Regions from separate parts of the Homo sapiens genome. Here region 2 is linked to region 1. The links come from fine-mapping of genetic effects on gene expression. A gene starts in region 1. The other region holds a variant in brackets. All regions are shown on one strand. Distances are from middle to middle.

Region 1 (12,455 bases):
AGTAAGCATGAGTGGCCAATGAGCAGAAAACCAACAGTGTCTGCCACAGCCAGTACCTTTGTCCTGTCACTGTCTAAACCTGAAAACCAATCTAAACTAAGTTGTTAATCAGGCCATGGAAATAAATCAACCTTGGAAGAGAATGATGATAGCATACCTTCTAGACCTGTGCTGTCCAATATGGGAGCCACTAGCCACACGTGCCATTTAAACTTAACTTTACATTACTTAAAATTAAACAAAACTTTAAATGCAGTTCCTCAGTCACACAAGCCACATCTCAGCTGTTCAATAGCCTCATGTGACTAGTGGCTACTGTACTGGATAGCACAGATTTAGAACAATTTCTTCATTGCAGAAAGCTCTACTGGCAACCACTGCCTGTCCATCTGCCGCTACCACTGATAAGAGGCTTCTCTAAAGTGGTGAAGCGAGAGTTTCTCTAAAGTGGTGAGGTGGTGCCACCTTAGTGTCATTAGCAACACCGCCATCATCTTTGTCCAGTGCAACCTGAAATTGGTAAGCTGAACATCCTCTAGCCAGTGATCACAGAAGCTCCCTGTCCTGCAGAGTCACGTCAGGGTCAGTCACAGAGCTCTGACAAGATCTGGTGCAGAGGAACCTCATGTTTCCATGCACTCACTGAGCCCATCTTCCTGACCGGGTTCTTGATCCACCCCTCTGGGAAAGAGAGGCACTGGCCAGGAGCTGGCTTGGGCAACTAAGGTTATCATAAGATTATTTTAATGGTCACCTTGTTCTATATCAGGCACCTCATGAACGATGATCATGAAGTCACCCACTGCCCATTGCCCCAACACTTGCACACTTCCTATTTTTTCATCAGCCGGGGACCGAGGAGCTGCAGAAAGTGAACAGAATGAGACATACAGGTACAGGGGCAGGGCGTCTGTGGTGGGCACCGGCCCTCATGCCCACCCCACAGATACAGCTCACATTGTATTTGATAGTCTATAAAAGGGCACCTGCTCTGAGACTTGGGGGAGGAATAAGGTTGCCTCCAGTAATAACTGCTCTTTGCTCCACTTTAACCTCAATGGGCCTGACAGTTGAGGTGCCAGCTTGGGTGCAGTTGGTGCAGCCCTGTCCTGGGGGAGGGAAAGGCCAACCAGGGTCCCATTCAACTCTTAGAGACCATGGTTTCTTCCTGGCCAATTTTGGCTGGTGCCATTCTCCCAGGAGGGGACCTTGGGAGACTTACACTGAAGCTCTAACTTGATCTGGCCCAGTAGATTTGAAAGGAGGCCCAAATTGAGTGGCTTCGAAGTCACCATATGTCCTTGCTGCACAAATGAGCTGCTGTTCTCCTCCTCACCCCTACTGGGGCCTCAGATGCTCACAGATCCCCACGAAGTCACCTTGCAGCTGTGGCCACCAAGGTGACAGGTGTAGACACTCTCCCCACAGTTATGTGCCAGGTGTTGGCTGACGGAGGACTGCCCCCACTGTGATGCCCTCAGCCAGTACAGGTGTGTCCTGGGGGCCTGCCTGCCCCTCCTCCTGGCACCACTGACTAGTCCAGGGCTCAGCAGGAGCATGATAGGCACTGAAGCCTGGTCTCTGCCCGTCAGCATTTCCTGCAGGCTTCTTCAATCCCATTTATTCCTAGTGTTCCATTATTGGAACGCTAAGCATGTGGGAGTTATTTATTTCCTGCTGCTCAAGGTCATTGCCAAGGTCTGATTTTTCACACATGTCTGCAATTCAAAAAATTGCAACCTCCTGCATAAGTGGGTTAACAAACCTTCACCAGACCCCTAAAGTTCAGGCGAAATTGAGATATTTGACCCCCATAAGAACACCAGCTGGCACAGAGATCTGCATTCCTGGTGCCCTCATGGGAACCAGCCTGGGCCTGGCAGAGGAGGAAACGAAGTCCCAGCACACCAGCGAGCAGGCCTGCTCCACCTCAGGGGCACCCAGCACTTGTTAGACCCAGTTTCAAGTTTCCAGCCCCTCTTCCCACCTCAGCCTCTTTCCTCCGTGGGTCCTGGGGGCTCCTCCAATTTCCTTTCCCTCTGAGGTCTTCCTCATGTTAAAGATCTTCCTCCCTCCACCCAGCTCCCCAGGAAGCCAGAAAGTCTCCCCAGGTCCAGCCTTCCTTTTAGCCCCCAAATCAAACATCTTAGGGAAAAAGCGGAAAAGTACAGGGAGAGAAGAGAGGAAGGAAAGGAAAGAAGAGAGAAAGGGGGAGGTGGGGAGAGGGGAAGCGGGGAAAGGAAGAAAGAAGGAGAGGAGAATAGGGTGACAGAGTGTGAGTAAAGAGGGAAAAGGAGCTGGCAAGCAACTAGAGGGAGATTACTCCTTGTTTTCCAAACCAACACTTTCTGGTCACTTTTTTTTTTTTTTTTTTTTTTTTGAGACAAGTCCTTGATCTCTCACCCAGGCTGGAGTGCAGTGGCACAATCACGGCTCACTGCAGCCTCGACCTCTCGGGCTCAAGCCATCCACCCACCCCAACCTCCCAAGGAGTAACTGTGACTAGATACACACTGCCATACCCAACTAGCTGTTTGATTTTTGTTTGTTTGTTTATTTAGGGATGGGGTCTCGCTATGATGCCCAGGCTGGTCTAAAACTCCTGGGCTCAAGAAATCCTTCCACCTCAGTTTCCCAAAGTACCGGGATTACAGGTGTGAGCCACCACACCAGTCTCTTATCACTTGATTCCCACCAAATTCTGTTTAAATGAACATGAAGAGGTAAAGTATTTCAAAAATCCCAGTTTACTTTATATCTTCATTGAACACCAGAGAAAGAAGAAGTCCATTAATTTTATGATGTTTTTCTAAGGTGCGGTGGGAGAGGAGGAAGAAATATTCTTGGCATCTTGCCTTTTTTTAAAAAAAAAAAAAAGATCTTTGCAGTTTCCTGTTAATTTAATACCAGAACCTTTGCTGTGTAAATAACACAGATAAAGATAAACTTTACTGGCCCTGGACTCCAACCTTCGTTTAACATTCCACCCCCCTCTGATCCATCCCGCATCCCGCCTATGGAAATTTGTAATTAGTTGTGGAGATTTAGAGGCTGAGAATATATAGTTCAGGAGGCAGAGCATGTTGGTTTTAGACAAGCCTTGTAAGAATGTGCTAAAAATCCCAGTATACCTGACAGTGCTTCTCTAGAACTTGTCTTTCTCTCTTCCTCAGAGGTGACCTGGATGGGGTTAATTCCCTTTCTGGTCAACTTGTAGGTTTCACCCTGGCTCTGCCACCCACCCTCCCAGTTTATTATACCCACTTAGGCTGTGCTTTGCTGGCATGGCCTTGCACTGTTATTTAGACAAGTGATTTAATCCCTCTTACTTGCTATTATTGAGCACTCTTAGTTCCTCTTTTTTTTTTTTTTTTTTTAAGATAGTCTCACTCTGTCACCCAGGCTGGAGTACACTGGTATAATCTTGGCTCACCGCAACCTCCGTCTCCTGGGTTCAAGCGAGTCTCCTGCCTCAGCCTCCCAAGTAGCTGGGATTACAGGCACACACCACCATGCCCAGCTAATTTTTGTATTTTTATTGGAGACGGGGTTTCACCATTTTGGCCAGGCTGGTCTTGAACTCCTGACTTCAGATGATCTGCCAGCCTCAGTCTACAAAGTGCTGGGGTAACAGGAGTGAGCCACCATGCCCAGCCAGATTTAGTTCCCTTTTTGATAGGGCACTTCCTCCAATAGTGTTTTCAAAGAGGGGCTATATGTGATACGCCTTCTGATTCTTTATATACCTGATAATTTAGCTAGAAATCCAAATCTAGGGTCAAAGTTATTTTTCTTTGATACTTTAAAACAATTTTTCCATTTTTTCTTAAACCCAATGTTGTTGCTAAGAAATCTGAAGTCAACCAGATTTTTGTTCCTTCCTCAGTCCTTCTACTACCCAGCTTCTGGGAATACAGGTGTGATGGCCCAAGCTTTAGCAGCCAATTTGGATTATGAAGATGTCAGAGGGCAATAGTGACTTGGTATGAAATCTGAGTCTTCAAACACCTAGTAAAGCAGAACTATTATACTATTTCAGCCATAAACTGTCCATCCCCAAACGTCTACAAAAGAGAAAAAGAAATTTTCATTGTTATTAGTGTTGTCTGTGTTATTAAGAAATGAATCTTAATTCATATATCCATTAAACCTGCTTTGTTTTATACTTTCCAGAAGCCTAACTGTTTTTTATTTTTTATTTTATTTTATTCATTTATTTATTTTTTGAGACAGAGTTTCGCTCTTGATGCCCAGGCTGGAGTGCAATGGCACGATCTCAGCTCACCAAAACCTCCACCTCCTGGGTTCAAGCCATTCTCCTGCCTTAGCCTCCCAAGTAGCTGGGACTACAGGCATGCACCACCATGCCTGGCTAATTTTGTATTTTTAGTAGAGACTGGGTTTCTCCATGTTGGTCAGGCTGGCCTCCAATCCCCGACCTCAGGTGATCCACCTGCCTTGGCCTCCCAAAGTGCTGGGATTACAGACACAAGCCACAGCGCCCGGCCCCAGAAGTCTAATTATTTTTCCCAGTGAATTCATGTTTCCCTAGATATCAGCTACTTTGGTTGGCGATAGGTACACCTGGAAGAGACTAAAACCTAGGCTCTTCCTATATATCCCACCTGGGAGCTTAAGGAATGGGGGTGTGATGGGACTTGCCTCTGGCATCAAATGTGAATGTAGCCACTCCCCATGTGCCACCCTCACACACACCAGACACCCCACTCAGGGAGCTTCTGGGCACTCTCCCCTGGCCAATCCTCTTTCATGAGGCAGGTCTCGTGGTTGGAATTCCTGACCCATGAAGTGGGAAGAAGAGGCTGCCGGGTCTGGTTTTTCTGTGCTGCTAGCCCCAGCCTGATATGCCATCCCTGGCTAGCACAGCTGTTTTCTGCCTCCCAGCAGTGCTGGGGAGATGGGGTTGAGAAATGGTCTACTCAGGCCAATGCAAGCAAAGAAAAGAGCACAAGTGTATAGCGTTCACTCAGCCTATCCCCCTTCTATGGCACTGAGGGGAGGAGGCGACAGGCCTTCCCTGGTTTTACATTGGTTTCTCAGAGTCCTTACCAACTCCCCTCTTGCTTCTGCGGCGTCTTTAGGGTACTATTCAGAGAAAGGTGCCAGCCCTTTAAGTACATTATCATCTTGTCACTTTCTGCTTTAATTTTACATTTCATTACAAATTACGTGAAATGTAATACTCAGTTCTTCAGTTGCACTCGCCAGATTTCAGGTACTCAATAATAGTCACATATGGTGCAGACAATAAAAAAGTTTTCCATCATCACAGAATGTTCTATTGGACAAGGCTGACCTAGATCCTTAGAAGGAAGGGAAATGCATTCCTGCTTCTGACCTGGCTGGCCCCTTGCTCCCCACGCAGATCAGAGCACCATCCGTGTCCTGCATCTGGCCCCCTAGACTTTCTGCTTTACGGAAACAGTCTGGGTTTCAACCCCAGCGCCTGGGGTGGTACAATAAGTATTTGTGGAAATAATGGACCCTCGGTCAGTTTTTGCTAAATGTTGAAGCCCAAAAGGAAAGCTGGGTGGCAGAAATAACCCCTGCGTGTTCTCTTTTATCTCACCTTCCTACCCACTTCTGCGCCCTCCGCCCCCTACCCCCCTACCTCCCACCCCACCTCGGCAAGACCCCAAACTGTGCAGGACTCTGCTCCAGGTCTCCAAACGATCTTATCTAGTGAGGGGATAATTGTCTGTCTTCCCAACCTCGGCTGCCCAGCGCCTGCACATAGTAGGTGCGCAGTAAGTATGTGTGGGATGGACGAACAAATGAATGAATGAATGACTCTCTGTTTCCCCGCGTCTGCGCAGGGACTTCGGGAGGAGCCACCCTTGGAGGGCTGAGGAGAAAGCCCTCTTCCTCCCACCCGGGCCCGCGATGCGGGCTGCGCCCAGGGGCGCGTGCACACAGAGGCCCCGCCCGGGGGCCCGGGGGTCCGGCTGGGCTCGGCCCTCGGGGGCGTGTCCTCTGTGCCGGGGCGCCACCGCCCCGAGAGGCGGGCAGCGGGTGCGCCCGGGCCGCGGCGGCCGCAGAGGGCGGGCGGCGGCCAGCATGGAGCGCGAGCTGGAGGCGCTGGCGGCCCGGCTTGCGCGCCCTGCCGAGCCGCCCTTCCAGGCGTTGGTGGAAGCGGCGGGGGGCCGCGGGCAGGTGCTGCTGGTGGGCGAGCTGTGGGAGCGCGAACAGAGCCGCGCGCTGCTGCGGGACTTCGCACGGGCGGTGTTCCCGCCGGAGCCAGGCGCGGCCAAGCCGGGCGGCGCGGCGGCAGAGGGCGCGGGGCCCGGGGCGGCGCGCGGGGCGCAGAGGGCGGCGAGGGCGGCTGGGGCGGCGGGGGCGGCGGCGGCGGCGGCGCGCGCCATCCGCTCGCCGCTGGTCTTCGTGCTGTGCCGCGCGTCGTCGCTGGCCGCCCGGGAGCCGCGGCGCCGCCTGCGGGAGATGCTGCGGGACGTGCGCGGCCGGCGGCGGGCCGGGGCGGCGCTGGTCGGGGTGCTGGTGGCCGAGGCCGGGCCAGAGGACGCGGTGGCGCCGGGGCTGCGGCTGCTGGAGGCGCTGTTGCGCGCCGTGTTCGGCCGCCAGGCGGGGGGGCCCGTGCAGGCGGCCGCCTACTGCCCCGGCCTCCCGGCCTCCTGCCTGGCCGTCCAGGCGGCCGCCTGCAGGGCCCTGCAAGCCGCCGGAGCCGGGCAACCAGGTGAGACTGCGCGGGGCCCGGCTGGGCGCGGGCGGGCGGTGGCTCGGGCACGTCCCCCAAGTTGGACCCCTTTGGCCATTCCCTTATTGAGCACCGAGGTAAACTGAGGCTCAGAGCAGGGAGGTGCCTAGAGCCAGGCCTCGCAGCTAGCGGAGAGCGGGCCGTGCGTAGCGGATCGAGTCTGTCCCGGAAGGGTCCGGAGTGCACGGGAGATGCCTAGGGGGCGTGGGAAAGCTGAGGGGCCGAGTAGAAGGCAGAGGGAGTGGGTAGAGAGAAGGGATGAATCGGGCAAGGCCGAGATCTAGGAGTTACGGGGTGGGTGGGGGTGGGGAGAGAAGAGGAGTGGGGAAGGAAATGGGAAAGCCTTGGGATGGGAAAGTTTCAAGGGGGTGGATGGGTGCTAAGGAGATTGGCGGTGCCAGAAGCTAAATTCTAGGGCGCTGCGCAGCCAGAGATGCGTCGGGAGCTCTAGGAGGGGCGGAGGGGCATCTCCAGCGCGGTGGAGGCTCGTCCTGGAAGCCCTGCCTGGTTTTAGGAAGAGGGCAAGGAATGGGTGCTCGGGACTTGACGTGTGGGGAGGTGAGAGGGACTAAGAGTACATTTTCTATTGATTTCTGGCCACCCACCAAGGCTGTGCACCCAACTGCTGTGTCCCTCAGCCTCCCCCAGGTCTGCTGAGGCCACCTTTTCCCTCCACATTCTCCTGAAAGGTGGAAGGGATTTAAGGGTCTTTTCCCAGCCCCCGTGACTGCTGCCATCAGCAGAAGGGTCAGGATCTCCTTCCTCCTGGAACACAAGGCTTTACAGGAACTCTCCAATGTTCTAGGATGAAAATATGCACATTAAGAGTAGCTGCATCTGGCTATCGCAAGGACAAAAAACCAAACACAGCATGTTCTCACTCGTAGGTGGGAATTGAATAATGAGAACACATGGACACAGGAAGGGGAACATCACACACCAGGGACTGTTGTGGCGTAGGGGGAGGGAGGAGGGATAGCATTAGGAGATATACCTAATGCTAAATGACGAGTTAATGGGTGCAGCACACTAACATGGCATATGTATACATATGTAACAAACCCGCACGTTGTGCACATGTACCCTAAAACTTAAAGTATTAAAAAAAAAAAAAAAAAAGAGTAGCTGCATCTGGCAAACCCGGGAGATCTTTGCACTCTCCAGCTCCCAGCTTTCTCTCCCTGCCCAGCTGGGCAGCCCTTCAAGCCCTCCAGCCCCTTCCTCTTAAGTAGATAATGAAGAAAGTGGCTGTATTGTGTGTCTCCTGGAGTATTGGCGTTGGTTGGGGGGCGGAGGGTCCCAGCAAGGAGACCTGTCACCTGTGATGCTGCCAATGTCACATTCACCTGCCAGCCTGGCCTGCCTGGGCGAGCGCGCCTGCCCTAACCCTCCTCCCTTAGGGTGCAATCCATTTTTTTGTTGAGGCTGTGATTGTTCTGATTTTTGTTTCAACCCCTTTGCTGACCAGGCCTCCAATAGAAAGAAGGGAATTCACACACATTTTCTATACCCTAATGAGTGCATGCATTTTTTTTTTTTTTAGATGAAGTCTCTCTTTGTTGCCCAGGCTGGAGTGCAATGATGCGATCTCTGCTCACTGCAACCTCTGCCTCCCAGTCTCAAGCAATTCTTCTGCCTCAGCCTCCCAAGTAGCTAGGACTACAGGCGTCTGCCACCACACCCAGCTAATTTTTGTTTTTTTGGTAGAGACGGGGTTTCGCCATATTGACCAGGCTAGTCTCGAACTCCTGACCTCAAGTGATCCACCCACTTTGGCCTCCCAAAGTGCTGGGATTACAGGCATGAACTACCACGCCCTGTCCCTCCTAAGCTTTTTGTAGACACATTGCTGTTGCCTGAGCCTGAAGAGCCTTTTCTCCTCCCTCCTCCTCACCTGGCCAATCCCATTTGTGCATTCAGAACTGGACTTCCTCCTCCGGGAAGCCTCCCTTGACCTTCCCTGCTCCCACTTGCAAGTTCACTGGCGAAATCCCAGAACCCTTTATCCCTTTGCTCTCTGAGCTCTTACCACATGATTTCGTTCCCTTGTGAACATGATTTTGTTCCCTTGTGGGTTTAAACACCATCTGCAGTCCCATTTCCTGATACCCTGCCTGGCATGCAGACAGAGTGAATGAATCCTCCCTTCCTTTTAAATAAACACTAATACTTTTGAGATTTTAACACTTTGCAAGGGAATTGTTCTCTATGTTAAGCGCTTTCCTACTTTTATAAAAACATACTGAACAAAATTAAACCTCTCGCAAATGACTAAAGGTCGTGAGTGGAATTATAACTTATAGCCCACTGATTTCTTTGCAGCTTTTGCAGTGGGCAGAACTATTATCTTCACACCAAATGGATTCATGTCACTAAGATTTCGCTAGTGGTTGGATCTGTTTTTTTAAAGTTTTCCAATTTCTTTCCTCACCGTCTGATGATAATTCTTATTCTAGGTTGCTTGCCTTTTGGCAGTGCCCTTTTACCCAGTTCGTGGTACCTAATCCAGCTGCCTTTGGGTTGAAAAACTAAGGATACAGTCTCTTTACCTTTGGGTGCGGGTTAAGAGTAAATTGGTCCTGAATAAAGATTATGAACAAGGATTTTCCTTGTTTTGGTTGCCTGAAGTCTTTTAAAAATAAATAAATAAATAAAATAAACAACCTAGTTCCTGTTGACTTTATAGATTACTAAAAAATGTATCTATTCCTGCCAAGAAATAGTTTGAACTAAAATCAGAGGGAACGTGCAGCTCTTTGAGTATTTTGTTTGGTGCTATGTAATTGTAATTAATTTCATGTCATTTTCATTGCTTTATTTCCTCAACATGGTACCTACATCACAGGGCTTTTGTAAGAATTAAATGAGATAACATAGATAAAAGTAAAGCAATCATTTTTAAAGTTCGGTTTTAAAAACCCACCCACTTTTGCAAATCAGACTCTGTGTTTTTAATCAGACAGTTGAAACTAGGGCAGTTGACCGTTGGGGCACTTGATTTGCTAAACGAAATCTCTCAGTCTTGTGAAGTGGGAACCATGTGACCCTCTGACTCAGGTTTTGTGTTCTTCCTAGTGGAAGGAGCCTGGGAGAGGCCAGGCCTCCCCGGACTGCTAGCCTGCTTTTCCTGGGGTCCCTGGAGCCGGAGGAAGAACCAGGATGTTGCTGCCTGCAGAAGCTCAGCTCAGGGTGAGTGCTCCCCGACCTCCTGCATCCTGAGGGCCAGGTGCATGGAATTATGGGAGTGGTCACGTGAACTTGGGGACCTTAGGGACAGAGTGGACCAACATCTATGGAGTGCTTGCCATGTGCCAGGTGTGGGGATGAGCAATGTGAGGTGCCCATATGCCAGGCAGTGGGCACATGGGCTCGGTCAGGCTGGGCTCTTTCCCCAGGAGTCTCCACCTAATGAAGGCAGTATGGGGAGGGCTGTAACAAAGGTGTCTCCAGGAGCATGGTGGGGTGCATGGGACGTGCATGGGACCAAACACAGCAAGTCTCCCTGGAGGGTCCAGGGAGTATCCTAGAGCAAGTGATATTTGATCCGGGGATGGAGGGATTTTCGTAGGCAGAAATGGGAAGTTTTGGAAAAGGAGCACTGAGCTAAGGAGTGACAGCATGATGTCATGCTCAGAAAAGGGACCACCTTCGAGAGGCCCTGGGAGTGAGGTGCAGAAGGAAACCAGTGAGGGCCAAGGCTGAAGGGAAGAGTTTGGACCAAATCAGTGTCCCAGATGTGCAGCCTTCAGGAGTAGTGTGCCATGAGCGATTTCTGAGCAGAGAGATTGGGGTGTGTTTAGAGAGATGGACTCTAGGAGAGGGAGACACCTCGGCAGAGCCCACCTAGGAGGAGGCTGTCGTGTCCCAGGAGGGATAACAGGCGGCCTGGGCCCGACCTGGGCAGTGGGAATGGAGGGGAGAAAACTCACCCGGAGCCACTCCTAGGTGGAATCATCAGGCCACTAAATGGAAATGAGGGAGAAGGGGAAGGGGAAGACACCCCTCCATGTCAATGCTGATGTTAGAGAGATAGGAAGCGCACTGATCCCCCCCTTATCCACGTGAGATGCTTTAAGACACCTGTGGATGCCTAAAACCATGGGTAGCACCAAGCCCTACGTATACACTGTGTTTTTTACTGTACATATATACCTACGATAAAGCTTAATTTATAAACTAGGCACAGTTAAGACATTTAACAATATATAACAAAAGTTACAGGAATGAGGTATCTCTCTGAAAATATCTTATTGGACTGTACCGCAGGTAACTGAAACTGCGGATAGTGACGCCATGGATGGGGGTGGCTACAGTACTCGGAAGCATGGTGTAGCCTGCTGAATGCACACAGCCCATCCCAAAGTGCACTGAGAAGTATAGCTTTGTTACAGAAACAATGGATGGTGGTTCAAAATTAACTTTCATTGTGTCTCTCATTTAAGAAAGAAAACCATTAGTTGATGTGTCAGTCTTCATTGCTGCATAAGAAATGATCGCAAGTAGGTTGGGCATGGTGACTCATGCCTGTAATCCCAGCACTTTGGGAGGCCAAGGTGGGCAGATGACCTGAGGTCAGGAGTTCAAGCCCAGCCTGACCAACATGGTGAAACTCTATCTCTACTAAAAATACAAAATTAGCCGGGTGTGGTGGCACATGCCTGTAATCCCAGCTACTTGGGAGGCTGAGGCAGAAGAACTGCTTGGACCCCGGAGGTGGAGGTTGCAGTGAGCCAAGGTTGTGCCATTGCACTCCAGCCTAGGCAACAAGAGTGAAACTCCGTCTCAAAATAAATAAATAAATAAATAATCACAAGCTTAGCAGCTTCAAAGGCATTGATTAGGTGTCTGACTTCTTGCTGGCTGTCAGCTGGGGCTGCTCTCAGCTCCAAGAGGCCCCTGCCATTCCTTGCTCTCACAAGCCCTCTCACAAGAGATCCTCCTTCAATCAGCAGGAGAACCCCGCTCTCCAGTCTGCTAGGAGGGAGTCCACATAACCTAAGGAGTCAAGGTAGTCACTAGCCATTGCATTTGTCAGAGAGACAACCTACTCCCCAGAGTGACTAAGCTATCACATTCACAGAGCCCATCCAGACTCAAGGAAGGGCTTTATAAGGGGCCAGAATCTTGGGGGCTGTCTTAGAATTCTGCCTGTCATGTTTGAAAACTCAAAAAAAAGTACAAAAAAAAAAAAGAAAGAAAACAAATGTGAAACATCATTCACTTAATTCCATCATTCAGAGATAACTACAATTATATTTTGGGGTACGCCATTCTATTTACCTATCTCTCCTTGTGCTCTTTAAAATTTAATAAACTCACTTCTATATCATCTTCAAAATGCAGTAGATATTTAAAATGTTTAATTGCAAAAATGCTAACTTCAACCTCTCCACCATCATTTTGGATATACTTGGAAACTAAAGGAGAAAAGATGAAGCAACAGAATCATTAACCATTTTACATAAATCTTGGATAATTTCTCTCTCTGTGGTATGTACAAATCTCATATAGAAGTGAATGTATTAAAATGCAAATGGCATTTATGGACTATGTACACACATTGATAGCATATGATAAATATAGGATATCATAATTACATGCATTTATACAATCATGAGTTGCTTAATGACAGGGATATACATTCTGAAAAATACATCTTTAGGGGATTTTTGTTGTGTGAACACGATAGAGTGTACTTAGAAACCTGGATGGTATAACCTAC
Region 2 (11,994 bases), 40 kb before region 1:
TATGGACCAGTGTCCCTCCTGTGTGACGTGAAGGTGAAGGGCTGGTTGATGTCCAGGGTGCCATCCAGCTCAGAGAAGTCAGCTTCAGGACAAATGGTGACACACTTATTCTAGGTGCCCAGGAAACCAGAACCATCAGAGACCTTCTGGGAGGAAATTTTCACCCCATCAAGACCTTATTCTGACTATCTAATTTCCAATTCCCTTCCCCTACCTAGTCTACTGCATTTTCACATGACTGGCATCCCTAGTTAGGAAACTCCCTTGCCCATGGACTAGTCCAGCTGTGATCCTCAGCCAAGGCCAGAGAAGTCCCAGTCCATTTTTGAAAACACCCCCTTGGTGATGAAGCCTTGGAGGTGCCTGATCCCACATGCCCACCTGCCCCCATCACAGCTTCCTGCTGTCGCAGCTTCCTGCTTTCTCTGTCCTAACTTTACCTTTATTCAGTTCCAGCAGCTTGCATTAAGCCCCTACTCTGGACTGTGGCCTTCTGAGGTTTCCACCATCTGGGGTTGGGGAATGAGAGGGAAGGCAGAGACAGAAATAATTCTAATGCCGTTCAGAATATGACCAGTCTCATACAAAGAGGTGCCCCGGAGCTCAGCAGCAAGGGAAGGATGGCTTCCAGTTGGAGATCTCAAGAAAGGCTTTTTTTTTTTTTTTTTTTTTTTGAGATGGAGTCTCGCTCTGTGGCCCAGGCTTGGAGTGCAGTGGCGCGATCTCCGCTCACTGCAACCTCCACTTCCCGGGTTTCAAGCAATTCTCCTGCCTTAGCCTCCTGAGTAGCTGGGACCACAGGCGTGTGCCACCATGCCCAGCTGATTTTTTTATATTTTTAGTAGAGACAGGATTTTGCCATGTTGGCCAGGCTGGTCTCAAACTCCTGACCTCAGGTGATCCGCCCGCCTCAGCCTCTCAAAGTGCTGGGATTACAGGCATGAGCCACTGTGCCCAGCTTAGAAAGGCTTTATGAAGAGATTTATCCACTTGAGATAGGGCTTGACCAGAAAATGCTTTGGTAGAGGTGCAGAGAGGGATGATAGAGGAGAAGGGCTTCTGAAAATGCAGGAATGTTCAGCCTGTTCATGAGATCTCTGATGTTCACGGTTAGCTAGAGCTGGACACAGGTAGTAGTAGTGGCTGATAAGCACTGGGCAGTGGGCTGTGGCTGTATTATGGAAGAGCCAGGCTTCCTGTATAGGAACAGGTGCTCAAACAGAAAGCAGTGGGGCCAGGCGCAGTGGCTCATGCCTGTAATCCCAACACTTACGGAGGCCAAGGCAGGCAGATCACTTGAGGTCAGGAGTTCGAGACCAGCCTGGCCAACAGAGTGAAACCCTGTCTCCACTAAAACTATAAAAATTAGTCAGGCATGGCGGCGCATGTCTGTAATCTACTCAGGAGCCTGGAGCATGCCTGTAAGCTACTCGGGAGGCTGAGGCAGGAGAATCAGTTGAACCCGGGAGGTGGAGGTTGCAGTGAGCCAAAATTGGGCCACTGCACTCCTGGAGACAGAGTGAGACTCTGAAAACAAAAACAAAAAGAAGAAGAAGAAGAAGGTGGGGGCTGCAGGGAAGACGTTCTAGCAAGGAGCTATTGAGGGACCATTCTTCCTCATTCTTCTGGGACAACCTCTTTCCACAGGTGCCCTCTCTCTGCTTCTTGGGACCACTCTTACTAAAGAATTCACACATATTTTTGCTGCTGCCACAGAGAAATTCCCCACTCCTCCCTCGGCCTGCCCTCTGTGCTTCCTCCATCTTTCTACAGGAAGACAGAGACTCATTCTCTGTGCCCTGTTTGGCTCCTTCTGGTAAAATGGAATATTTCTTTCATTGCTACCAGGAAGTTCTACCTATATGTGTCTGCTCCTATCTGATTCATTTACACCAACATGGCACAATCAGGGGCAATGTGGACACACACACTCCTACCCCATCTCTAGGGGACATTTAGCAATATCTGGAGACATTTTGGGTTGTCCTGGGGTAGGGGGGAGTAAAGACTGGGTAAAGACCAGGGATCTGGTAAACTTCCTACAATACACAGGATGACCCGCCACAACAAAGAATTACTCAGCCCAAAAATGTCAACAGGGCTGAGGTTGAAAAACACTGATTTAAACCAGGTTGAGGCCCTCGGCCGAAGCCCATTGGTACCTGAAAATCCAACTTTGCAGAGATTAATGCCTTAGGAGTTCCTGAGCTGTCTGCTAGATCTCAACAGGGTTCCCGGCCTCGGTTTCCAGTCTCTCTGATTCTAAATGGAGTCCCCTCAAGGGTTCCATTGCTCTTGGCTTCAGGAAATTACCAGCTTCATACAGATTCACTTGCTCCCAGAGCCTCCTTAGGCCAAGGTCAACCAAACACAACCCAATACTCTTGAGCTGAGCTTGCCTTCACTTCTGATCCTTCCTGCCTTTGTTTTCTTCAATCTTCTCGCTCAGGGACCTTTTTTTTTTTTTTGAGACGAGTCTCACTCTGTCGTCAGGCTGGAGTGCAGTGGCACAATCTCGGCTCACCACAACCTCCGCCTCACAGGTTCAAGTGATTCTCCTGCCTCAGCCTCCTGAGTACCTGGGACTACAGGCGTGCACCACCATGCCCAGCTAATTTTTGTATTTTTAGTAGAGACAGGTTTTCACCATGTTGGTTGGCCAGGATGGTCTCAATCTCTTGACCTCATGATCTGCCCGCCTCAGCCTCCCAAAGTGCTGGGATTATAGGCGTGAGCCACCGCACCAGGCCACTGGGGGACTTTTTAATTCATTATTTCAAAGCCTGTATAATTATCTGACTCCCTATTGTTTTCTGGGATCATGAAAATAATGAGCCCCAAACTGGAATTTAGTCCTTCCGATGCCCCCAGCCAGCTGTGTGACCCTGGGAAAGTAACTTAATTTCGCTAAACCTCAGTGTTCTGAGGAAAGGTCATCATTAAGGTATTTTTAGGCTCTAGAAGCCCTAAACTATGTCCTGTCATTTCAGAGTTCATGTTGGGTCTGGCTTTGTGTGGCCCAAAGCCCCCCATTTTTTTTTAAGACAGAGTCTCGCTCTGTCGCCCAGGCTGGAGTGCAGTGGCACGATCTCGGCTCACTGAAAGCTCCACCTCCAAGGTTCACGCCATTCTCCTGCCGAGTAGCTGGGACTACAGGCACCCACCACCACGCCCGGCTAATTTTTTGTATTTTTAGTAGAGACGGGGTTTCACCATGTCAGCCAGGATGGTCTCAATCTCCTGACCTCGTGATCTGCCCGCCTCAGCCTCCCAAAGTGCTGGGATTACAGGCGTGACCGAAGCCCTTTTTATCTGCATAGGTCTGCTCTAAACCTTCCGCTGGGGCAGGAGCTCCTGCGCTTGCCAGTCCCACACTCACCCACCTGTGACACACTGGCGATGAAAGCAGTCTCCTCAGGTGAACACATTTTATGTTGCAGTCACAGTATGAGCTTCAGATTGTCTTTTAAAAATACTTTTCCTTCTTCCATCCTAAAACAAAAATCACATTTAATGAGCACATTAAATTAATTAATCTAGAGAAAGATTCAGTCACCTGTTTAACCCAACCAATTGGGGTTTGGGAGATAGTCTGTGGTTGCCATTGCCATGAGTTTGAGACAAATGTTAGTTTTCTGAACAGCTGTTATGTTCTCAGGGAAAATTATCTGCCAAATGCAAAGGTTCTTATAAAAGTCAAGTCAACCCCCAAACTCCCCTCCCACAGTGCGGGAGGGCAGGCTTTGGGGGAAGGGGTAAGCTACTCTGAGATGGTAGCAGGCTCTGGGCCATGGTAAAGCCTTCGAAGAAGCTCCAAATCTTCAGGAAGCTGACCTGAAGATGAATGCGTGGGGAACATGGATTTTTGAGGTGTAGGAGTAGGGGGTATGTGGAAGCCAGTGACAGAGCTGAGCGTCACATCCAGGGTATCTTAGAGCAAAACAGGTAGCTCACATGGACCCAGGAACACGCCAGCAGAGAGGTGTCTGAAGGCAGCGCTCAGGTCGCAGAAGCATGAGGATCTGGCTGTCACCAGCCCCGTAGCCAGGGCTGTGAGGACCAGGGCAGCCGCTGTCCCCTGCCTAGCCTGGCAGCCTGGGATGAAGGAGGACACCAGGCTGGTGTCTGCAGAGAAGACTGTCCCTTGAAGCCCTGCCATAGGAGCCACCCTGGCTTTTATGACCTCACAGGAGGTGTGGGTCACTGTTCTCTGTGGGGCCTGGGTCCAGCTGGAGGCCCAAGCCAGGCTCCTAGGGCAGAGGGCAAACGGCCCCTCCAGGAGGGAGCCGGGAGATTACGCAGCTCCATGTAGGTCCACGTTTAGGTTGGGAGGATCTACCATGAAGAAGGTCAAGAAGAAAAGGTCAGAGGCCAGACGCCACCGAGACTCCACCTCCCAGCATGCTAGCTCCAATTCCACCTCTCAGCAGCCTAGCCCTGAATCCACACCACAGCAGCCTAGTCCTGAATCCACACCACAGCAGCCTAGCCCTGAATCCACACCACAGCATTCCAGCCTTGAAACCACCTCCCGGCAGCCAGCATTCCAAGCCCTTCCAGCACCCGAAATCCGCCGCTCCTCTTGCTGCCTTTTATCTCCAGATGCTAACGTGAAGGCAGCCCCTCAATCCAGGAAAGCAGGTGGGCTGTCTTCTAGCTTCAGCAGTTCCAGCCTTCCTGCTGATGGAGTTCTGGGTCATCCCAAAGGCTGGTTCTTGTAGGATAGTGATGCATGGTTAACGTGTATCCTGGAGCTGTGCTGTAGAGTGGGAAGGTTTTTGTTTTTGTTTCTACCCAAGAGACCAGGATTCCTGGGTTTTGTCATTTCTCATCATCCTGAGTCTCACTGAAGACAGCCACACATACATATAAACATTTAACTTGGTTCCATAGTAATACTTGCTCACTAGGAATCAGCAGTGCCATGCAACTGCTAAAAAATAAAAACCAAGGATGCATTTATAGAAGTATATGGTTTAGAATAAGGGAGGTGATGATACTGCTTTATTCTGTCCTCATCAAGCTATCCTTTTGGGCTGTAAAAGATGCCTGACAAACTAGTCCAAGGAAGATAGTCTGGGTTGATGGAGGATGAGAAGGATCAGGGAGACCATTTAGTGTATGACAGTCAATTGAAGGAATTGGAGGATGTCTGTCTGTCAAGTGGAAGATGTGAATAGACTTGTTCCTTATTGTCCTCAGAGATCTAAGGGTCTGATGTGGTTTGGCTGTGTCCCCACCCAAATCTCTTCTTGAATTCCCAGGTGTTGTAGGAAGGACCCAGTGGGAAGTGATTGAATCACGGGGGAGGGTCTTTTCCGTGGTGTTCTCGTGATAGTGAATAAGTTTCATGAGATCTAATGGTTTTAAAAAAGGGAGTTTCCCTGCACAAACTCTCTTCTCTTGTCTGCCGCCATGTGAGATGTGCCTTTCACCTTCCACCATGATTGTGAGGCCTCCCCAGCCACGTGGAACTGTAAGTTCCACAAACCTCTTTCTTTTGTAAATTGCCTAGTCTCAGATATGTCTTTATCAGCAGTGTGAAAACAGACAAATACAGGCCCATGGATAGGATAGCCAGACAAAATACAAGACTCTCAGTTAAATTTTAATTTTAGTAAACAACAAATAATATTTTTAGTATGTGTGTCCCCAGTATTGCATGGGCATCCTATATTTTTATTTGCTAAATTAGCAATCTTACCCATGGAAGACATTAGTGACAGAAAGCCTTCGGCTCAACATAAAAAACTTCCCAACAATTAGCTCTGTCTGAAAATGGAATGGCTGTCAGGAAAAGTGGTTCCCTGTCTTCTTGGGAGCCAAACAGTGTCTGTATAAGCATTGGATTGTGTAGAGGGAATTCAAGTGGAGTTCAGGAGGTGGGCTGGTTTATACTACTAACAATAATGGTGATAGCAAACTAACATTATCACTAAGCATTTACTGTGTACCTAGCATTCAGATCAGGTGTCTTAATTTTCACACGTGATAATCCTATAAAAGTTCTTCCATATTATCTCCATTTTATAGATGGGGAAACTGAGGCTCATAGGAGTCAAACAGGTTGCTCCTGAGCAGACGCTGGTAGCCCTGAGAAGGGAAACCCACTCTATTCTGACTCCAGAACCCTCACTTTAAACCACAGCACTGACCTTTCCATTCCAAGAGGCCTAGGAGTCTCCACAAGAGGAAGAACATCTCTGTCCGAGCATCTCCTGGATCTGCCATGAGCCAGTGCCCACGACTCCATAGCCTTGAACAGGCCACACTCCCTGGGCCACAGTTTACCCCCCGGGATTGTGTGGGCATAAAATAAATAAGTGATGGAGATGAGAGTGCTAAATATAAGGCATGCCATGCCAATGATCCTTCCATGGCCAGGAATCAAACCTTTCTTGACATATGATATTGATTTTGAGCACCATACTATATGTTGTAAAGATTGTGATCATCAGCCAGTGAGAGAAACATTTCTGGGTTATGATCTTCAGAACTGGCATCTTCAGTACTGGTAGAAAGCAAGACTTTCCATTCCCAAGTCTTTTAATGAACACATGTGACTCATACTCAGAGAAGAATTTGGCCCATTGAACAGGCAAAGCAAGAAAGCAAGAAATGGTGGTGGCTCGCCAGTGGTTACAGCAGACACCCTATACTTCTTCCAAAGGAATTCTCTGCGTAGAAAGGAATGTTGGAGATGAAGGATGAGGGCCTGCAAGTAAAGCGTGCCATTTTCTAAAATCCAAGCCTTTTTGTGTGCAGAAATATTGTAGCTCAAGAAAATGCCAGTCTTCCACTAGGATGGGTATAATCAGAAGGATGGACAATAACAAGTGTTGGTGAGGATGTAGAGAAGCTGGAATCCTCATACACTGTAGGCGGGAATGTAAAATGGTGCAGCTGCTGTGGAAACAGTCTGGTGGTTCCTCAGAGGAACATGAAGTTACCTTATGACCCAGCAATTCCACTTCTCAGTATACATCCAAGAGAATTCGAAGCATCTTATTAAGCATATTAGAAGCACACCAAAACTTGTACACAAATGCTCAAAGCAGCAGCATTTGTAATAGCCAAAAAGTGGGAACAACCCAAATGTCCATCAGCTGATGAATGGATAAACAAAATGTGGTATGAAATACCACAGTACAATGAGTATGGTGAAATACTATTTGGCAATAAAAAGAGATAGTGTCCTGATACATGGTACAGCCTGGATGAACCTTATAGACACTTGGCTAAGTGAAAGAATCCAGTCTCCCAGAAACCCACACATCGAATGATTCTATTTACATGAAATGTTCAGAATAGGCAAATGTATTGCCAGGGACTGGGGGAAATGGGAGAGTGGGGAGTAACTGCTCATGGAGATGGGGTTTCTTTTTGGGGAAATGAAGACGTTCTGAAATTAGTGGTGATGGCCACAAAACTTTGTGAATATACTAAAAACCACTGAGCACTCTAAAAGGGTGAATTTTATTGCCTGGGAATGATATCTCAATTTAAAAACTTTTTTGTAATTAAAAAAAAAGACAAGTCTTGCCTTTAGAATCCCCTCTCCTCATTCCGGGAAAGTACGTGTCGTGGGCAAGTCTAAGCAGAAAGTGTATTGAATCTGCCAGGTTGACCACCTGTTTCATGCAGCTTAGGGTCAGAAGAATCTGTAGCTCTGTCAAGAAGACGCAGGGCTACAGATAGGAAACAGGAGGGAATAATCCAGCCAGAAATTATCTTGCCCAACCACAGAGGGCATCATCTACATTCTGCTGGGATCCATACCAGAGGAGGACAGAAACAGAAAATAGGATCGGGACTGGAAACTAGAGCTGTGGTTGTCTTCTGGATGGATCAGAATGCTCTAGATCAATGGAACGTGGCAGCTCCAATTCCAGGAATGTCAGTGCAGCCTCTCCTGAGGTGAGCAGTCACCTGAAATTCCATTTTCACTGAATTAAACGTGAGAAAGCCTGAGTTGAGAAAGCCAACTTCTGTAATCTACTCCCCAAAAGGGCATATCCCTTAAATTAGCTGAGCCTCAGTTTCCTTATTTGTAAAACAAGACCAGCAGTATCCCCTTTACAGGATTACTGTGAAATTAAATGAGATGAGCATGCTAAGTGCAAAGCATCCTGAAGGTGTAAGCCATGGCACCATCAGCACCACCTCCATCATCATCATCGTTGTTGTCGTCGCTGTTGCTACTCCCAGGTAGCACCAGTATAAAACAGCCATTTTCCCATGCGGTCAGTCTTCTCTTCTGTTTGGTTAGAGAACATTTTGTGGGAGAACTGCCTTCCTTAGGTAGTTCAGTCCCAAATCCTCAATGATGCCTTGGAAAAAATCCAGCGTTCGCCCTGGTAATCCTGCAGCTGCTGCCGTTGTGGGGGGCCTTCTCAGACTGTGTTCCAGACTCCCCCGCCCCAGCCTCCCAGGGCAGGTGCCTCCCTCACCTCTCTCCTTCTGTCCCCACAGGGCCTCTGATTCGCGCCGGCCCGCATTCCTGCTCCTGTGCCACTTGCCCCTGCAGCTCCGCTT[G/C]CTGGCGTCGTCTGGGGCTATGCCATAGCCGCATCTTCGATGTCCTTCTGCCTCGGGACTGGCAGATGGCGCCAGGGAGAGGACTCCCCAACCTGCTCACCTTCTACAGGTTCCAAGCGCGAGGGGCTGGAGCCTCGGGGCACACAGTCCCCAGGGCCAGGCTCTGCCCCCAGACCTTATTAGCAATCATGTATCACTTCCTCTTGGGAATCCCAGGCCGAAGGAAAGCCTTTCTTTCCCTCTTTGCTTTGCCCACTTCCTGGACGTTGGCAGGCAGGGCCCTTTCTGACCGGCCCCACCCCCGGGGTACCCACCCCGCCTGTACAGAGAGGTGCCAGTTTTCTTCCTCACTGGGATTCCTCCTCAGGGGCTTCCTTTTTCTTTTCTCCAGAGATGCCCTCCCCTCCTCAGAACACTCTCCCCCTCAGCCCTTCACAGAGTCGCTCAGGAGCTTTGTGTTTAAACACTGTTTGGCCATGCACCTCCGTGGGCCCTCAGTGGCCTGTGTCATAGGCAGGGGCCTTAGGTTCCTGATCTGCCTACGAATGTCGCCCAGAATTTAATGATAAAAAACTACTTGTAACTCATATGCCTCCTCCACACAATAGCAAGACGTCAGCCCCCTTCAGACTGTGCTGGGCTCTTTCTGGGGGTCTCCACAGGGAACATCTGCCCCCAGGCTGGTCTGTTGGTGGCGGCCCCCATGACATCACCCATAGTATCTGTCCTTCCTTCCTCTTCCCAAAAAGCCACCAGGAGCAGTGTCATGGCTGCCACCGCCCTCATAGGAAGACCCCATCCATGCAGGGAACAGACTGGAGATGTTCCCACGTTTGGGCGCTGCTAGGTTACATGCATGGGCTGGGAGAGGGGTCGCCATCTGCCCCACCTGAGGGCCTCACAGATCTCAATGGAAGAGGCCCTTCCACTTGGCGACCTCACACCCCCACCCCAGGAACTGAGGCCCCCCAACCCCCATCCTTGTCCTGTTCCTCTTCCCAGCCTCTTCCCTACCCAATCCCCTCTCCTTTCTGGAGCTGAAAAACTCCATCTCTCCTACACATGGAGATAAGTAAATAGATACCGGGGCGTGTGGGGAGAACACGCTTGGAGCCAAAAATACTCCACCACCCAGTAAGCTCCGTCAAGGAAAGGTCTGCCTGCCACCGTTAGCCACACCCTGCCCACACGCTTAGTACTTCCATCCATCCATGGCCAAATCGTGCCATGGGTTCATATCGTTTTAAAACCAGCAAGTGTTATTGAGGGAAACTTACTATGCAGAGGACATGGGGCACTGTGAGGGAAACCAGAACAGGGAACTTTACCCCTAAAATTGTTGCAGTCGACATGGAGAGCTAAGACCCATGCATTTAGAAACCAAGATGCAAGATGCAAAGAGCCTTGTGTCCTCTAGGAGAGGCTCCAACAGGAACCTCTGAAAGGTTCCAACAGGAACAGGCTCCAACAGGAACCTCTGAAAGGTTCCTGTCAACAGCATGTGAGCCGAGTCCAGAAGGATCTTGAAGTCCTCTCTGGCTTAAGATGAAAAGCGGGAGCAATCTGGGTGCAGGAAAAGGCAAGCGTGAGGCTCAGAATCAGGAAAGTGAGCAGGGAGAGACAGGGTCCATATCTGGCCAGGGCAAGACATGTAGTTTTAATTCTGCTCCAATTTTAGCACTGGCATGCTTTTCTCAATGGAGTGTAATGTTGGCTCTTGGCTTTCAATCCACATTCACATTAAACAAGAATCCCTATTTTTGTAGGATTTTTATCAAAACGGGTATTGCATTTTTTGAATGCCCTCCTCACAATTATTGCCTTAGTCATGTTTTCCTTGCCTTTGTGTGGGTGTAATATATTATTTCCCAAGTTCCTTTCTCTCAATGGAGTGAAGTGATAGAACTTACCTCATAGGGTTGTTGTGAGGCTGGAAGAAGACACTGGGTGTGAGGTATTTAGCACAAGGCCTGGCTCACAGCAGACTTGACCACCTTCCTAACCTGGTCCCCTTCTGAGTGTTCAGGGCAGCTAGCATCCCAGGCCAGCTCACCCTCCGATCCTCAGGGGTCTTTCAGTAGGGACTTGTTGGAAGGATGGGAAGAATTAAATGCTCTCCTAAGAGGAGTTTGGAGAGGGGGAAGATGGGTATTCCTGCAATCCTGAGGGGGCCACATAATTTCCACTTTCTCCTGTTCGTAGAGAGGCACTGAAGCCCAGCTTCCCACCACCCCCACTTCTGCTTTGCTCTACAGAAAATCTTCAAGAAAACCCTCCAGTCATCGTAACGCGTGTCCTCCAAGCCCTCGGAACTGTGGCTGTGGCTCTGGGGGCTCTAGGAGCTGCCTACTACATCACTGAATCCTTGTGAACAAGCCCCTAGGCCCACAGTCTGGCAGGTATGTTGAGCGCTCTGTCCCTTCGAATGGAGGTGGTCTCTTCAGGTGGACCAAGCCCCGGCCTCTCAAGGGAAGCTTGCCAGTGGAGTGACTCCCTCCTGGCCTCAGGGTCAGCCGGCATGGCCCTCTAGGGAAGACCTGATGCTCTCAGATGACGCTAGACTCATTATTACAATCATCTAAACAGAGCCCCCACCTCCTCTGCCCCGGGATGGTGTCCCTGGTCATGGACCCTGGACAAGAGGAAATGGGAGGGATGGGGGCAAAGGTTTCTACCCATCTCGGACCTTTCTTGGAACTTTCTCCCTGCCTGGAAAGCTTGTCTCCTACCCAGTCCTACCAGTCCATCACCCATAAAGCCCCCTTCTTCCATGAAACCTTTCTCCATCTTCCCAACTTCAATGACGTCTTCCATCTTCTCAACCCCTGTCCTCTCCACCTGTGCCTCCTGTGTTGTGGATGATCCTGTCGTTTGCCTGTGGCCTGTCTCCCATCTGTCCTGCAAGACCCCTGAGGGCAAGGGGCATGGCTCATGCAGCCATCTTCCCTCATCCCTGGAAGCAGAGCCTGAGACTGGGGTTGAATGGACAGGTTTATTGAGGAGGTGCTCTCAGGGAGTGAGGGAGTGAGGGAGGCAAGAAGAGGCAAGGGAAGGAGCTGAGAGGCAGGAGGCCAGACCTCAGCTTGACCCTGTGGGAGCCCTGGAACAAGAATGATGACACAGAGTTAGTCTCAGCAGAGGGGAGAGACTTGCCCTCTGGTGCTCCTCCTTGTCAGTGCTTTGGCTCTGAGTGTTGGGTAGGGACTGCATGTCTTTGTGGAAAGAGCAGCTCCCTTTGGGCTGAGGGTGCTTCCCTAGAGGAGGGGCAGCTCTGAGCTATTAGCAGCACATTCACAACTCACAGGAGTTGGGCAGTGGATGCACCAGCCCAAAAAGGGGATAATCGTCTGTTTTCCTTGCCTTTGCAGTGGGCGTAATATATTATTTCCCAAGGTTCCTCTCTCCCAGTGGAGTGAAATGATAGAACCTACCTTGTAGGGTTATTGTGAGGCTTGAAGA

The links. PIP is the estimated chance that this variant, and not a neighbour inherited with it, causes the effect.
Region 2: its variant is fine-mapped to the expression of C2orf72 in testis (GTEx, PIP above 0.99).

The regions. Positions count from the first base shown.
Region 1 is chr2:231,031,488-231,043,942 of GRCh38, forward strand. C2orf72 (chromosome 2 open reading frame 72) reads left to right here and starts at 6,036. Exons shown (of 3, transcript NM_001144994.2): 1 at 6,036-6,712; 2 at 9,809-9,922. The coding sequence starts at 6,079.
Region 2 is chr2:230,991,894-231,003,887 of GRCh38, forward strand. SPATA3 (spermatogenesis associated 3) reads left to right here and starts at 4,228. Exons shown (of 5, transcript NM_139073.5): 1 at 4,228-4,641; 2 at 8,473-8,644; 3 at 10,791-10,934. The coding sequence starts at 4,341. The coding sequence ends at 10,896. It overlaps SPATA3-AS1 (SPATA3 antisense RNA 1), which reads right to left and starts at 4,139. Exons shown (of 6, transcript NR_033879.1): 1 at 3,955-4,139; 2 at 3,384-3,492; 3 at 441-509; 4 at 1-82. RefSeq lists an enhancer at 3,739-4,272. The variant G/C (reference allele first, on the strand shown) is at 8,536.